Homo sapiens: one gene and its partners. The gene in region 4 interacts genetically with the main gene of each other region. Each region holds a gene or a part of one and is shown on either strand. Other genes may lie near its edges.

Region 1 (4,265 bases), on a different chromosome or scaffold from region 4:
CCAGCCTCCGCCGCTAGAAACTCGTTGGCCTCGCTCGCCGCTCCGCCGTGGAGCCGGGGCTTGCCCGTGGACCGCGCGTCCCGCTCTCCGCCGCGTATCCGGGACTCCGAAACGCGCGGCGAGCAGCCCCCTCCCCCACCGCCCAGACGGGGTGCGACCGCCCACGTGTCGCCCCTTGCCCAGTCGGGTCCTTCCCTCGGGCTCCGGGAGCCGGAGGATCCGGAATGAGTTGGTCAAAGCCGAGGGAAGGGACCCAGGCGGATCCGCTTCCCCCTCCCCAGGAACGGCGGGAGGAGGAGGGGAGTGGCCGCCGCCCCCTCCCCTAAGCTCCCGCCCCTCGCTTCCCCGTGCGCGGAGCGGAAATTACCCCCTCCCCCCGCGGGTCTGACCTGGGGACGTGGGCGGGGCTTCCCGCTTAGCCCCCCGCCCTCCGTCCCTCTCCCGCCTTCCCGCCAGGATCGGAATCCTGCACCCCAAACAAAGTTCCGAGACCCGAACCTAGGGCCTAGAGAGCTGCCAGCAGTGTCCCGGGTGGTGCAGGCTCTGGAAACTCCACCTGTCTGTCCCCGACTCTGGGAGGGAAAAGGGGACCATTCAAATCTCCACCCGGTCACTCCCTCCCTAAGACCTCCCCCTTCAGTTCGCTCCGGTTAGCCCTAGCTATCACTCCTCTTCCTTGTCTCCCACCGTTCCTGTCTCCTGGAGTCATCTCCGGCCAGTTCCGCGTGTTCCCCTCAGGACCCCGAAACGTTATCATTTAACAGCCGGACCCCGGGTGCGAACCACCCTTTCTCCCGTGGGGATCTCAAAACATTATTTCCTGCGGCTTCCTCGTTCTCCACTGGGATACCCCGTTCCCAGCTTTCCAGTCCCGCGCTCGCAGGGTCCCCCGGTCCTGCATCCCCGGAGGCGGGGGAGTTTCGTGGGGCTGGCGTGGGGAAGGCGGAGACCCCCCCCATTTAAACATCTAGGGAAAAGGTTCCTTTCTTTTTAAATCACCAGCTCGTGCGACCCTCTCCTGAAGACCCCAGAGTCTTCGGCTTCTCTTTGTCTGTCTCGGCCGTCCCCCGCCTGTCAGTCGCTAGCAGTTAACCGGGGAGGGGTGAGCAACCCCGCCCCCCAAAACGAATGAAAAATAACCGTACATTTTACCCTTTAAGACATGTGAGATCTGGGCTGGACCATCCTCCCCCAGTTTGGGCTGGGGTAGGGGGATGGGTGGGGGCGGGGCGCTTCCCTAGGGGCCAGGTTCTTGCAAAGGGGGAAGGGGCCTGTAGAGCTTCAGGGACGCTGCCGCACCGCCCCAGTTTACCCCGGGGGTGAGTTGAGTTCCCCACCCTCAGGCGGGAGATTATCGGGTTTGGCCGGAGGGCCGAGGGGCCCTGTGGCGTCGGGGGTCTTTCCCTGCAGGGTGGGTGGGGGCTGTCACCACGTGGCTTCTCCTTTTTTTTTTTTTTTTTTTTTCCGCTCCATTTTTTTTCAAGTCGATTTTATTTAGAGGCGGCGCCAGGGCGGCCGCGGAGAAACGTGACACACCAGCCCTCTCGGAGGGGTTTCGGACCGAAGGGAAGAAGCTGCGCCGTGTCGTCCGTCTCCCTGCGCGCCGCGGGCACTTCTCCTGGGCTCTCCCCGAACTCTCCCGCGACCTCTGCGCGCCCTCAGGCCGCCTTCCCCGCCCTGGGCTCGGGACAACTTCTGGGGTGGGGTGCAAAGAAAGTTTGCGGCTCCTGCCGCCGGCCTCTCCGCCTCTTGGCCTAGGAGGCTCGCCGCCCGCGCCCGCTCGTTCGGCCTTGCCCGGGACCGCGTCCTGCCCCGAGACCGCCACCATGAACAAGCTTTACATCGGCAACCTCAACGAGAGCGTGACCCCCGCGGACTTGGAGAAAGTGTTTGCGGAGCACAAGATCTCCTACAGCGGCCAGTTCTTGGTCAAATCCGGCTACGCCTTCGTGGACTGCCCGGACGAGCACTGGGCGATGAAGGCCATCGAAACTTTCTCCGGTAAGAACACAGCCACCTCCCGGAAAAGCCACAACGAGAGCCCCGAACAACGGAGACCCGCACCTTCCGGTTCCTCTCCCGCCAACTCCTCTCTTCCCGGGCCTGCGGGGTTTGGCCTCCGTACCCACCCTCGACCTACCCCCTTCGATGCCCCCTCCCTCGCTCTGCGCCTCCCACCCCCGCGCAGAAACATTCGGGATTTCCTCATCCCTTTCTCCCAGCCTGAGATAAGGAGCTCTGGCTTCCCCCATCCTTCCTCCCCACCGACGGGGCGGGAGCCCCCACTGGCAGTAGTGGGGGGTTGAATTTAGGGACACGGGGATGACCCCTGGCTGGGCGTTATTTCCACGCCCAGCCCCTCCCTATCCGCCGGTGGACGCCCCCCCAGCTGGAAAACCCCGGCTCCCGTTCCTCAGTCTTAGGCCTTTCCAGGCGTGGAAGGGGTACCCGGACCGCCTGCGATCTGTCCGCTTCGCGTGGGGAATGCAGCCCTCCAGCAGGACTTGCAAGGAAGGGGGTCTTGCCTCCCGCCCAGGGCCTGGGGCTTGAGCCATTTTGATTTGAAAGTGGGGCGTGAGCGGGGTGGCGCGGCGGCGGCGGCGCCGGGTCGCCATGCTGCTTCCCGAGACGCCGAGGCTGGGCCGAGAGGCGCGCGCGGTGGCAGTGAGGGACCCTCCCCGCCAGGCCCCGCTCCGCTCCCCCAGGTCCACCCCTTCCCAAACCAGCCCCGACAGGTGACCGCTCCGTGGCCCAAAGCCCGTCTTCCTGGCCAACAGAGAAAAATAAAGTTTCATTCTGCACACTGCCTCCCGCCCCGCGCCCCACTTTCTGAGGAACGGGGAGCCCTTTCTTTCCTGGCTCCTTCCCACATCTGGGAGCTGTGTAGGCAGCGCACCCACACAAATGGCCTCGCACCTTTCCCAAATCGGGATTCCAGAGCGATCCACTCAACAAGCCTCAGTGATTTAATAAAGCAAAAATTAAAAAATGAATAATAACGAATTTACAGACTCCACCATTCCTAGAGCAACCTTTTTCCCATCTGGATGCGGAAGCCACTGCCTGGATTCCTAGGAAGATCTCGAATCCCAGTAACTCCTGAATTATCCTAGTGTCTTTTCCCCTTCCTCTTCCCACCCCCAACCCCTGTTCAAGCTCTCATGGTAATTTTTTTTTTTTAATCTTTAGGGAAAGTAGAATTACAAGGAAAACGCTTAGAGATTGAACATTCGGTGCCCAAAAAACAAAGGTAGGAAAGAGCTCTTTTCGGGGGGGGTGGGGGGGCCGCGGGGGTGTGCTGTGAAGCTGTGTTCAGGGGTCCATAGCGTCTCCAGTGGAAGAAACCCATTACTGGTCTTTCCCACCCCCAACTCCGGATGTTGGGGGCAGGGAGGGAAGATTGGCCAAGATCTTGTAATGGGTGGTTTACAGCTTGTAAAAAAAAAATAAATAAGTTGGGGCTGGGGTAGGCTAAAAGATGTTACTTGCAGAATTAAAGGGGAAAGAAAATCAATAGGGGAGAAACCTTGTGGAGTTTGTTTGTTCAACTCGTGGGGCCGTTTTTTGTGGGGGAACCTTAAAATCTTTGAAGAGTTCAGACTCATGGCGATTTCTGCAACTTCGTAGCAGGCCTCATTTTCTGTTTTTCCCACTCTTTCCACACCATAATTCTTAAGTGGATTGCCCTTCTCCCGAAGCGATGTGGAATGAGTTTCCCGGCCCCCAAAGAATCCCCTTATGCTTGTACTTTATTTATATTTCTACAACAGGCAAAGACTTTTTATTTTCCATGGACCCCCCACCCCCAATCCCTCATATCTCACATCATCCCTCTCCCCAGCTGGATTTTCCAAAGAATATGCCTTGGCTGTACTATCCTTTTCGAGCCCCCCTACCCCCACTCCTTCAGCCCATTGTTACCAGGGGACCATCTGGGGTGAGAGCTTTGTGTTGAGGCTGTGAGCTGGGGCTCTTTGGAGGGTCTAGAACTCCGTGGATGAATGGTGTGTGTGTGTGTGTGTGTGTGTGTGTGTGTGTGTGTGTTCGTGTGTGTTCCAATACCCTCTATCCTCTCTCTTCAGCAAAATGGGGTACCTCCATCATACTTACCGAGAATTCATGGTGGATTTCAAATCTTGCATTGAACTCTGAAACCTTTCCTTGAACTCTGGCTGGGAAGTATAAGGGCAGAGTCTTTCTACTTTCTCAAATCAGACTTTAAACATGTTGACAGTGTAGAGTTTGCTCTCATGTCCCAAGCTGGA
Region 2 (3,500 bases), on a different chromosome or scaffold from region 4:
TAGAGCCCATCTGCAGTACCCACCTGACACCCCTTCCCCACCTACCTTGGGTCGTGCTCCAGTCAAGACCGCCCACGAAGAGCTTCCTGCGATTCAATGAGAAAACATTCAGGATCAAGACAGCGCTCGCCTTAGAAATGCCCCCATCCAAGCCAAGCTGAGGTCTTAATTCAAACCACAGAAGCAGCTGACGCAAACGTCCTTGTGCACGTGACGGCATACAAAGCTCACAGCAATGGCGAGTCAGCCTCGCCCATGCTGTCTGCAGACATGAAAGATGATCCCAATCCTTGCCATGGGGAGAGGACCGTGCCACAGAGCCGCACGCTGACCTCATGCGTGGCGGGCGATGAGTTCCTGGGACAGGCCAGTGGTGACGGCACCACGCTCACCTGCACTGCTGCCAAGTGGGACACAGGCTCGCTTTCCTACAGCTTTTGCGAGTATTTTATAATCAGGAAAAAGAATGTAGAAGTCTACATCTGAAATGATGCACAGTAAACTAGAAGCCTATGCCACACGGCCTCTGAATTACAGCCTGGGGCGGGGGTGGGGGGACACAGACAGAAGCCTCCCAATGAGCCTGCACTCACGAACTAACGAGAGGCCCACAGATGAAGGTGAAGGCCCTGAAGCTCCAGTCTCAGCACTGGCCCCACTTACTTACCCCCGACAAACCCGCGCCACCCCCATTCTGGGGCTGTCTCTTATTGGCAGATGAGAAGGGCCTGAAATTCAGTCTCAGCACTGGCACTTCCTGCCTGCCCCCACCAAAGACCCGCGCCACCCCCGTCCTGGGGCTGTCTCCTCCGGGCAGAAGAGCTGGAGCTCTCCCAAGGCGTCCGCCATCGACCCTGCAGCGACGCCCAAGGGCCCACTCACCTTTCCACCTCACTGCCGCTCCAGGTGGCCCCAGGGCCTTGGCTGTGCCAACTCCCAATGGGGACTGTGCCAACTCCCAATGGGGACTGTGCCACCTTGAGTCAGCCATGGCACCCACTGGGCATGTCTGAGACACCACAAGGCTTACCCAGGCACGGGGCCTTAGATGTCATTCAAGCTTCCCCCAAGCCCAGGAGGCAGGGAAGAGGTGGTTCTATCGGCGACTCTCCCATCCTGCCTGCTTTCCCTGGGAAAGAGGACACGCATTCAGAAATGAAGTCCCTGAGCTGAATCTCAGCTGTGACTCAGTGCCAGCACCATCATCACCCTTGGTCTCCAGAGAGCAAAACACCGTGCAGGCCAAAGCTCCCACCTGAGCCGCAAGAATCCTGCCAGCCTCACTGAAAGCACCATTCCCACGCGGGGCCCTGTATCCCTGACGGCCAACCACACCACCCTTGGCTTCGGCTTTCAGCAAAAACGTCGCTGTCAGGTTGAACACGTTACTGCCCCACCAGCAGCAGGAGCAACGTGCTCCTCCCTGCTCCTGCCAGCTCGCCAGGAAAGACCCCTGCAAGGTGGCTGGCACACTCATCACCTCTCATCAACCACCACCTGGGGCCTGTACACTCAGCCCCCGCGAGTCAGCCCCTGGTGAAGTGTCTGCCACAGCCAACCGCCAGGAGCTTGTCCCTGTTCCTTCTTTTTTCCCTAAGAACGACTGATTTAAATTTAGTGTGTGAAAAACAAAGCATGTTCCCACCACAGGAAAGGCACCCACTGCCGTCTTCAAAACGTCAACAAGCAACCCCCCAGCCCCGTTCTTCGGTGGGGAGGGCTGAGGCGGGAAGAATTAGAGGCGGGGTGTGCCAGCCGCCCTGTGCTTCCTGACCCTTAGAGACGAGATCTGAAAAGGCAAATTTCAGGGAAAACCATGCTGATCACGCAACAGCAACAGGCTTAGGTTGAGGCCTCATTAACTTAAAATCCTACGTCTCCCACGCACCCTTCGCAATCAGGCCAGGGAGCGTTGAGGTCAGGCCTAGAGACCGTGGGAGGAGCGAGGCCTCCGCGTGCCTCACTCTCCATAGGCTGTGCCTCACTCTCCATAGGCTGTGCCCGCGCTGAGTCAGGGCCAGCCCCGCCCACATCCCTGCCAGCAGGGCCCGGCACCCAGCAGGAGCCAGCAGCAGCCCCCACCCCATGAAGGAAGGGCCCCCAAGCCTGGCTGGAACCGACCGGAAAAATGCTCATTTACACAATCCTTTGGAATTAAAGTTCAAGCAGTTCTCAAAAAAAAAAAAAAAAACAAAACACACACACACACACACACACACACACACACACACATAAAACCCTGAAAACCAAACCAAATCCAAGTCACTTGAAGAAACAGCAGCCTGTAGTCAGCACTGCACCCACCCAACAGCCAGGTAACAGGCAGGTGTCCTCCAAGCAGCCCAGTACCCCCTCCACCCCCACCTCACTGGCAGAAGGAACTCGTCAGACCAGTCCAGTTTCGGTCTTCATTTAAATTTCAAAAATTGTGTATTAAGGGGGAAGGGCTAGAAACGCTCAGCTGAGAAACCTGAAACAGGGCCGGGGGGGTTAGATAACCTGGTATCAGTACTGTCTTTCTCAGCTGGGCGCAGATCACGCCTATAATCACAGCATTACGGGAGGCCAGGAGTTCAAGACCAGCCTGGGCAACGTAACGAGACTCCAGGTGGTGGCAGGCACCTGTAGTCCCAGCTACTTGGGAGGCTGAGGCAGAAGGATCGTTTGAGTCAAGGTCGAGGCTGCAGTGAGCCGTGATTGTGTCACTGCACTCCAGCAGGGGTGACAGAGATCTCATCTCTTAAATAAAATTAAAAAAAAAATAAAAAATACTCTTAAATAAAATTAAAAAAATAAAAAATACTCAAATACAATTTTAAAAAATAATAAATACTTTCTCAATTTTTTTTTGAAAAATTGTCTCGCTGTGTTGCCCAGGCTGGAGTGTAGTGGCGCGATCTCAGCTCACTGCAACCTCCGCCTCCCGGGTTCAAGCGATTCTCCTGCCTCAGCCTCCCGAGTAGCTGGGACTACAGGCGCCCGCCAGCTAATTTTTGTATTTTTAGTAGAGACGGGGTTTCACCATATTGGCCAGGATGGTCTCAATCTCTTGACCTCGTGATCCACCAGCCTCGGCCTCTCAAAGTGCTGGGATGACAGGCGTGAGTAGCTGCGCCCGGCCACTTTCTCAATTTTGATCACTGTGCTGTGTTCATGTGAGAGAATGTCATTGTTCTTGGGAAACAATAGATATCTCAGTGTACACATAAAGGGGACTGCATCGGTCTCCAGCTACTCTCAAATATTTCAGTAGAAACACACACAGTGGGGATGGGTGCACTGGCTCACGCCTGTAATCCCAGCACTTTGCAAGGCTGAGGTGGGCGGATCACCTGAGGTCAGGAGTTCGAGACCAGCCTGGCCAACATGGCAAAACCCCATCTCTACTAAAAATACAAAAATTAGCTGGGCTCGGTGGTGCGCACCTGTAATCCTAGCCACTCGGGAGGCTGAGCTCGAGGTGTACTGCTTGAACCCGGGAGGCGGAGGTTGCACTGAGC
Region 3 (3,500 bases), about 44 Mb from region 4:
TCTGACATTAGAGCTATTTAAAGATAAAATGGTTTTAAATAAATTAGTTATTGGTATCTACGCATGAAATTCTATAGCACAACTACTTTTTTAAGTATAAATACAGTCAATCAAAATAAAATGTCCAATGACAAAAGCTGGTGAATGAGAAAACACTGAAACAGCTCATATTTGGGACTCACTGCCCATCCTGGAATGCCTCATATGAGTTGTAGTTTGTCTTTAATTCTTCACTGACTTAAAAAAAAAAAAAAAGAAAAACCCCAAACAGCCAAAAAAAAAACCAAAAACAAAAACAAACAAAAAACCTAGAGTCCTTACTGTAGCCTACACAATCCCTTAAAATCCAGTATTGGATTTTAGTTAGCAGGTTTCATAACTTGTGGAACAAAAGTAACTTTTTCAGGAGATAGGTCCCTAGCTAACAAGACAATAATTAGGATAACATTTCACTGATCTTGAGGTATAGAAAACCTATAAAGGTATAAAAGCAAAGGAAGAAACTCTACAGAAAAAAAAGAAATGACTACACAAAAATTTAAAACCACTATAAATGAGAAATACAATAAAATAATTAACAAACTAAATGACACAATAAGAAAAATTTTACAACATATAGGGAAAAGGATTAATTTTACCACATATAGAGTGCTCAGAGATCATCAGGACACACCAACAGAAAAACAGTCAAAGAATAGAAATAGGAAAATCACAAAAGAAATATGAAAGATAAATGAAGGTACAAAAACGTTCAACCTTACTAGTAACCACAAAAATCTTAACAGAAAAATATTTTTCTACTAACTTACTATTATAGGCAAAGCTTGTAATATGGCCAATTCTCAGTGCTTGGAGTGGGATTTTAGAGTTAATCTCAAAAAATGCTGGTGGGATTGAACATTTACCTAGTCTTTCTAGAGGGAAGATAAGCAGTACACAGCAAAAGTCCTTAAAAGACTTCAGACACTGATACAAAATGACTCTTCTAGAAAGTTATTCTCAGCAATTAATCAGAATTGCATTGTAGCATTCTTTTTGAATGCTACAAAGAAAGCTTATTACAATGTTATGGTAGTGAAGAATCGGGAGAAAAAGAATATAAGCAACATCTTAAACACAACAGTATATATTAAAATTGGATTTTTAAAAAACATACCATCAGATTGTGAGCACTGTCACAAATGAAAAACAAAATATGTACATGCAATAAGTCAAGACTTGAGAACGGGGAGAAAAGGATATGCATAAAATAAAAGACAATAAGAAATACATCCAAATGTTGGCAATGGTTTTCATGGGATTGTGCACCTGTTGGTAAATTTTAATGTTTTCTTTAGTTTCTGGCATTTTCAAAATGTGCCAGAGTTTGCGTATTACTACCTTTATAGTCAAGAGTGAGAAAGATTTGTTTTTTAAAGGGCTGAAAGTTAAGGAGAAAAATGGTCCAGTGGAAAATCTATTTTTCCCATACGGCTAGAGGTTTTGTGTCTGTATAAAATGCATACATATAAAGCTCCCTAACTCTACGTAAAATCTAGTTTCTTCCCATGTTCATTGTTTATCCTAACTGAACATTGTTCATTGTAGCATCTTAACAAATTCCAACTCTAAAAAACTATTTATCTAACGGGGTCTTGCTCCGTCAACCCAGGCTGGAGTGCAGTGGCGTGATCTTGGCTCACTGCAACTGCCTTCCGGGCTCAAGCCATCCTCCCACCTCAGCCTTCCTGAGTAACTGGGACTGTAGGTGCAGGCCACCATGCCTAATTTTTGTATTTTTTGTAGAAAAGGGGTTTTGCCATGTTGCCCAGGCTGGTCTTGAACTCCTGAGCTCAAGCAATCTACCCTCCTTGGCCTCCCAAAATGCTGGGATTACAGGTGTGAGCCACTGCGCCCAACCATTTATCTAACTTTCGACTACAAATTGCTAAGTATCAATAAGGTGATAGATAATACTGCAACCAAAAGTTCATCTATCCCTAATAAATCAACAGATGATAAAATAATGACACTCACTTATCTTTTTCCTCAATACTCTTTCAATAAGTGTTTATTCCATTTGTCATCTCATCAGTACCACTTACCTTGGCATTACCATCAGGTAAGAAGAGGTAGGCACCACTTTTGTCTCTTTTAATTGTGGTTCCATACCATGAAAATTGCACATTTACTTCATGGTGTTTACCATCTTCTTTAGTCATCATTTGCTAAAGATTAAAAAAAATAATAATAAGCAACTCACCACTAAGATGTTAAGCATGTTGCATCTGGTTCTATGTATATGACAATTTAAAAAAATAATTTCTGTACTTATCTGGTGGACCAGTGACACACAGACCACGGAGTAGCGCCACCCACAGACTATACATGTGAGCAGCAAGTGGTCAATGAAGGTGCAAAAAGCTCATGCTTCCTTTTACTCAAGAGTATTTGATACAGCTCTACTTAAGACTTTTTTCCCCTTTTGCCTAATTAATCTACACACATTGTAGCAAAAATGATAAGCATTCTATGAATTTTAGAACTATTCAGAACATACCTTCATAAGTCCAGTTTGATCAAACCGAAGTAAAACAAAGGAGTTCTCTAGTGTTATACCTTCTTCAGTATTTATCATATTCTTTATGGTGAAAATTCCGCTATCTTCTACTTTATTCTTATACAAGACATAATCAGCTAAATGTGAATTTGAACTTGCTGATTCCAAAATCTTATACACTTTCAGTCCCAATGGCGGTATATGTGCTCGAAAAGAGATCTTTAAAAGATAGGGAAGGGAATTTATTAAAGATAAATGTTATCTACTGAGAGGCAAACCATTTATATTTTTGGTAAAACCAACAAACTATCATATTTTTTAAAAAGAGAATCCAGTTGGCCCTCCATATCCACAGGTTCCATGTCCACAGTTTCAACCAATTACAGATAAAAAATGTTTGAAAAAAAAACAAAAAACAAAAAATACAAATAAAAACTATAGTATAATAACTATTTACATAGCATTTACATTGTATCAGATGTTACAAGTAATTTAGAGATGATTTAAAATACACAAGAGGATGTGTGCAGGTTATATGCAAATGCAGATGCTCCTCAACTCATGATTGGGTTATGTCCAATTAGAATTTGAAAATATCGTAAGTCAAAAAGGTGTTTAATACACCTAACCTATCCAAAATCATAGCTTAGCCTAGTCTACCTTTCATGTACTCAGAACACTTAAATTAGCCCACAGTTGGGCAGAATCACCTAACACAAATCATATTTTATACTAAATATAAATAGCTTATGTAATTTATTATATACTATACTGAAAGCGAAAAATAGAATAGTTGTATGGGTACTTGAAGTACGGTTGCTACTGAATGCACATTACTTTCACGCTATTATAAAATTGAAAAATCTAGGTTGAGCCATTGTAAGTCAGGGATCATCTGTACTATGCCATTTTATATAAAGGACTTGAGCATCCATAGATTTTGTTATCCCCAGAGGGTCCT
Region 4 (3,500 bases):
GTAAGGGTGAATGTGGGTTTAAAAAAAGAAATACTCTCTCAACATCAAAAGAAAAGGACATAGGAATAGATGGTTTAATACTTTGTGAAAAGGAAATACATACACCTTTCCACAGCTAATTTAAAAGAGGAAGAATAAATGTAAAGTTGACAATAATACAGATAAGAAAGTAATAGGCTGGGTGTGGTGGCTCATGCCTGTAATCCTAACCCTTTGGAAGGCTGAGGCCAGAGGATTGCTTGAAGCTATGAGTTCTAGACCAACCTGGGCAACTTGGCATTTTTTTTATTTAGCTGGGCATGGTGGTACACTCCTGCATTCCTAGCTCCTTGGGAGAGAGGCAGGAAAATCGCTTGAGTCCACAAGTTCAAGGCTGCAGTGAGCCATGATTGCACCACTGTACTCCAGCCTGGTGACAGAGAGAGACCTTGTATTTTAAACAAAAAAAAAAAAAAAAAAAAAAAGAAGAAGAAGAAGAAGAAGGTAATAGCTTGGGATAGCATCTGAATTTCTTAATTAGGAATGAAAAGTTTGCTTTTATATTCTTAGGTTGGTTACACACAGAAAAGTTCATAGCCTCTTTCATCCTCACTGAGGAAAACAATTTTCCATTCTTTTCTAGATGTTTTAGTTCATTTTGAAAATTAGTTTAGAATGGTATGTCTCTTATTATTCTAAACTCTTATCTTTGATAATTTTAGAGAAAAGAGACAGGATACTTAAGGTTCTGGTTTCTGTTGCACTTTTCAGTTAATTGATACATGTTCAATTTTATAAGTAATATATTACATTCTATTATAAAGAACCTCCTTGAACCCAGAAGTTAGAAGTTACAGTGAGCTATGATCATACCACTGTACTCCAGCCTGGGTGACAGAGCAAGACCCTGTCTCTTAAAATTATTTAAAAAAAAAAAAAGGGACCCCTGCCTTTCGGGGTCCAATTACTATAAAGAACCTCAAGATTTTCGATATCAACTGAAAAAAATGAAGGAAAAATAAATCATTGCAGTATACGTTCTTTTTATTTGTATTGAAATCGTTAACATGTTCTGTTGTTGATCTTTGGAGGGTACATCATCCAGTTCCTATCCAAAGGAACAATCACAGCCATGGTTTTTCTTTTAAAAGATGCTAGAGAATTTTCTCCGTCTCTGTCTCCACCCCTCTCAGTGTGTCTACGTTTGGGTCAAGAGCATATTTGCAACCAATGGATACACGCCAGTACTTATACTGCCTAAAGCCAAAGAATGAATTTGCAGAAAAAGCAGGCATCATTAAGGGAGTAACAGTAATTGGAAAATTGGATATAGTATGGAAAACAAATCTAGGTGAAAGGGGAAGGTTACAGACCAGCCAACTTCAAAGAATGGTGAGTCTGGAAAAAACTTCGCTGGGGTTTTGGTGTGTGAAAGACAGGTAGTTAGAACAACTTAATTTTTTCTACATCCAGCAGTAAAAAATTGGAGCACTATAAAAGGCATTACTACTACTGGAGCAGAAAAGATTAATAGTGTCACTGATAGGTAGGTCGAAGACTGGTGTTGCCATGAATGAAAAATGGTCAAATGTTAATTTATCCTTAATACACGTGTTCTTTATCACACAGAAATTAAAATAACTGTTATTAAGTGTCTCTCCTTTGGTAACACATGCTCACTCTTCTTCTGATTTCCAAACACATTAAGGTTTTCTATTTTGCAATGTCCTGAAACTCTTGGACTTACTTCATTCACCTACTCAGTTCCTACCATTTTTAAGATGTTAAAAATCTGAGGCATCTCCTCAGAAGGTGAGTTCTACTAAAGTTATCTTATAAGCATTGGTTGCATATTTTACCTAATTTCTTCTCTGAGAGTAGGGATAGCTACCAGGCTTCTTTTTCTTATGCTTGTAAGAATATACGACAGGATTCTCCTCCCTTTATGCTGAATATTACCTGTTTTGACATATTCCAAATTTTACTTTTCTTTCCACTGTTTGAGGCAATAATTTTTAAAAAATGATGATGATGATTCCTGGGCCCACTTAAATATAGCCGTTAGTTATTTTTCTGCCATGGCCTGTTCCAAGCCTTCGTGTTGTTATAATCCATCCTCATCTGTGCGTCTTGTAAAAAGTCATGATTTTCTTCCTGGCTCCTTTCAACATCATCCCCCTCTTTCTTTAGAAAATAACTTTACCTATTTAGAGTTACACACATAGAAGCTACAGCATCTGGAAAGTGTCCCTTCAACTCCCTGAAATTTCTTTACTGACTACTTACCTGTGAGATTCATCTTAACTCTACTGAACATGGAATAATTATATAACAAAAACAGTCCAGGTCTGCCAGGCTATTCCACAGGCAGTAGCTGCAAAAGAATTTAAAATGAGAGACAAGTAAAGTGAATCAGAAGTATTTTCTTAGAACATCAGCTTGGAAACCCAACAGCTGTTGAGTAAATGTGCTGCTGTGGTGCCTTCATTAAAATGGAAAGGTTTTGTGATAGATATACATTAACTGTGTTGCTTGTTTTCTTAGGCTCCAGGTTATGGAGATGTTAGGTTGTCTTTGGAGGCAATACCAGATACCGTAAACCTTGAAGAACCTTTTCATATTACCTGTAAAATAACAAACTGCAGGTAATGCCACTGTTTGTAGATGGATGTCCTTTCTACCTCACCTGCCTAGAAGATAATTTTAAAATCTTTTTGTTACTATCTCCTTTTAAGTTTTCCTCTTGACATACAGCCTTCTCTGATGTTGATATTGAGTACTGTAAAATTCTTCATCTGGTAGCAGTATAATTACATATTTTTAAGGGCCTATTGTATTATGCATCTTCTGTATTTTATTTCATTCATTTGTCACACCCTATGAGGTAGGTATTCATTGTTTATACTTCCTTCACCAAAACATGAACTAATAGGTTCTTATGTATTAATATATTATGAATTGAAGTAGCAAGATTTTTTGAGGCATGCTTGTACTTGAGCTGTATCTTGAGTATTAAGAAACCAAACATTGCTTATGGATTTAATGTAAGGGGAGATCATTGATTCGAAAACTGGGTTTTGACAGTAAAGAGAGAGCATAATCTGAACTGTCAGGAAGCAAAGAGCACAGGGCTTTGAAACCAGAAAAAAATAGAATTAAGTTCCAGTCCTATGCCCTCTGCTCCTACTTGTATTACCACTTGGTTTGTATTATTATTTGGGGTATTTTTATAATATTGCAGTGATGAATCCTAGTCCTCTTAGTGTGAATGTATAATCCTTTTAATTCCATATTTATTCTTTTTGGTATTAGAAAGATAGGAAATATTTATCCTTCAAAATTACAGAAATACCCACTTCCTCTATGAAGCTACCTAGACTTTCCAAAGCACAGGTATTCATGCCTTCTCCATCATAGAAAATTTTAACTTAGTTTTTTAGTGACACTCATATATTGTGTATTTAGTGACACTCATATATTACTGTAAGTATTAGTCTCTTTCTCACTGGACTGGAATTATT

What was found. A genetic interaction does not mean that the proteins touch.
Region 1: changes in TRAPPC13 (region 4) and IGF2BP1 together harm fitness more than expected from each alone (negative genetic interaction), as found in Homo sapiens cells (one large-scale study listed by BioGRID).
Region 2: changes in TRAPPC13 (region 4) and DAZAP1 together harm fitness more than expected from each alone (negative genetic interaction), as found in Homo sapiens cells (one large-scale study listed by BioGRID).
Region 3: changes in TRAPPC13 (region 4) and MAN2A1 together harm fitness more than expected from each alone (negative genetic interaction), as found in Homo sapiens cells (one large-scale study listed by BioGRID).

What each region holds. Positions count from the first base shown.
Region 1 is NC_000017.11:48,995,920-49,000,184, forward strand, and holds the start of IGF2BP1 (insulin-like growth factor 2 mRNA-binding protein 1), read left to right. Parts: upstream 1-1,465; 5' UTR 1,466-1,826; coding exon 1,827-2,001; intron 2,002-3,189; coding exon 3,190-3,250; intron 3,251-3,349; exon of another isoform or gene 3,350-4,265. UniProt on the Homo sapiens protein: RNA-binding factor that recruits target transcripts to cytoplasmic protein-RNA complexes (mRNPs). This transcript 'caging' into mRNPs allows mRNA transport and transient storage.
Region 2 is NC_000019.10:1,414,086-1,417,585, reverse strand, and holds part of DAZAP1 (DAZ-associated protein 1), read right to left. Parts: intron 87-3,500; coding exon 46-86; intron 1-45. UniProt on the Homo sapiens protein: RNA-binding protein, which may be required during spermatogenesis.
Region 3 is NC_000005.10:109,818,927-109,822,426, reverse strand, and holds part of MAN2A1 (alpha-mannosidase 2), read right to left. Parts: intron 2,759-3,500; coding exon 2,540-2,758; intron 2,208-2,539; coding exon 2,085-2,207; intron 1-2,084. UniProt on the Homo sapiens protein: Catalyzes the first committed step in the biosynthesis of complex N-glycans. It controls conversion of high mannose to complex N-glycans; the final hydrolytic step in the N-glycan maturation pathway.
Region 4 is NC_000005.10:65,659,527-65,663,026, forward strand, and holds part of TRAPPC13 (trafficking protein particle complex subunit 13), read left to right. Parts: intron 1-1,172; coding exon 1,173-1,371; intron 1,372-2,523; coding exon 2,524-2,624; intron 2,625-3,500.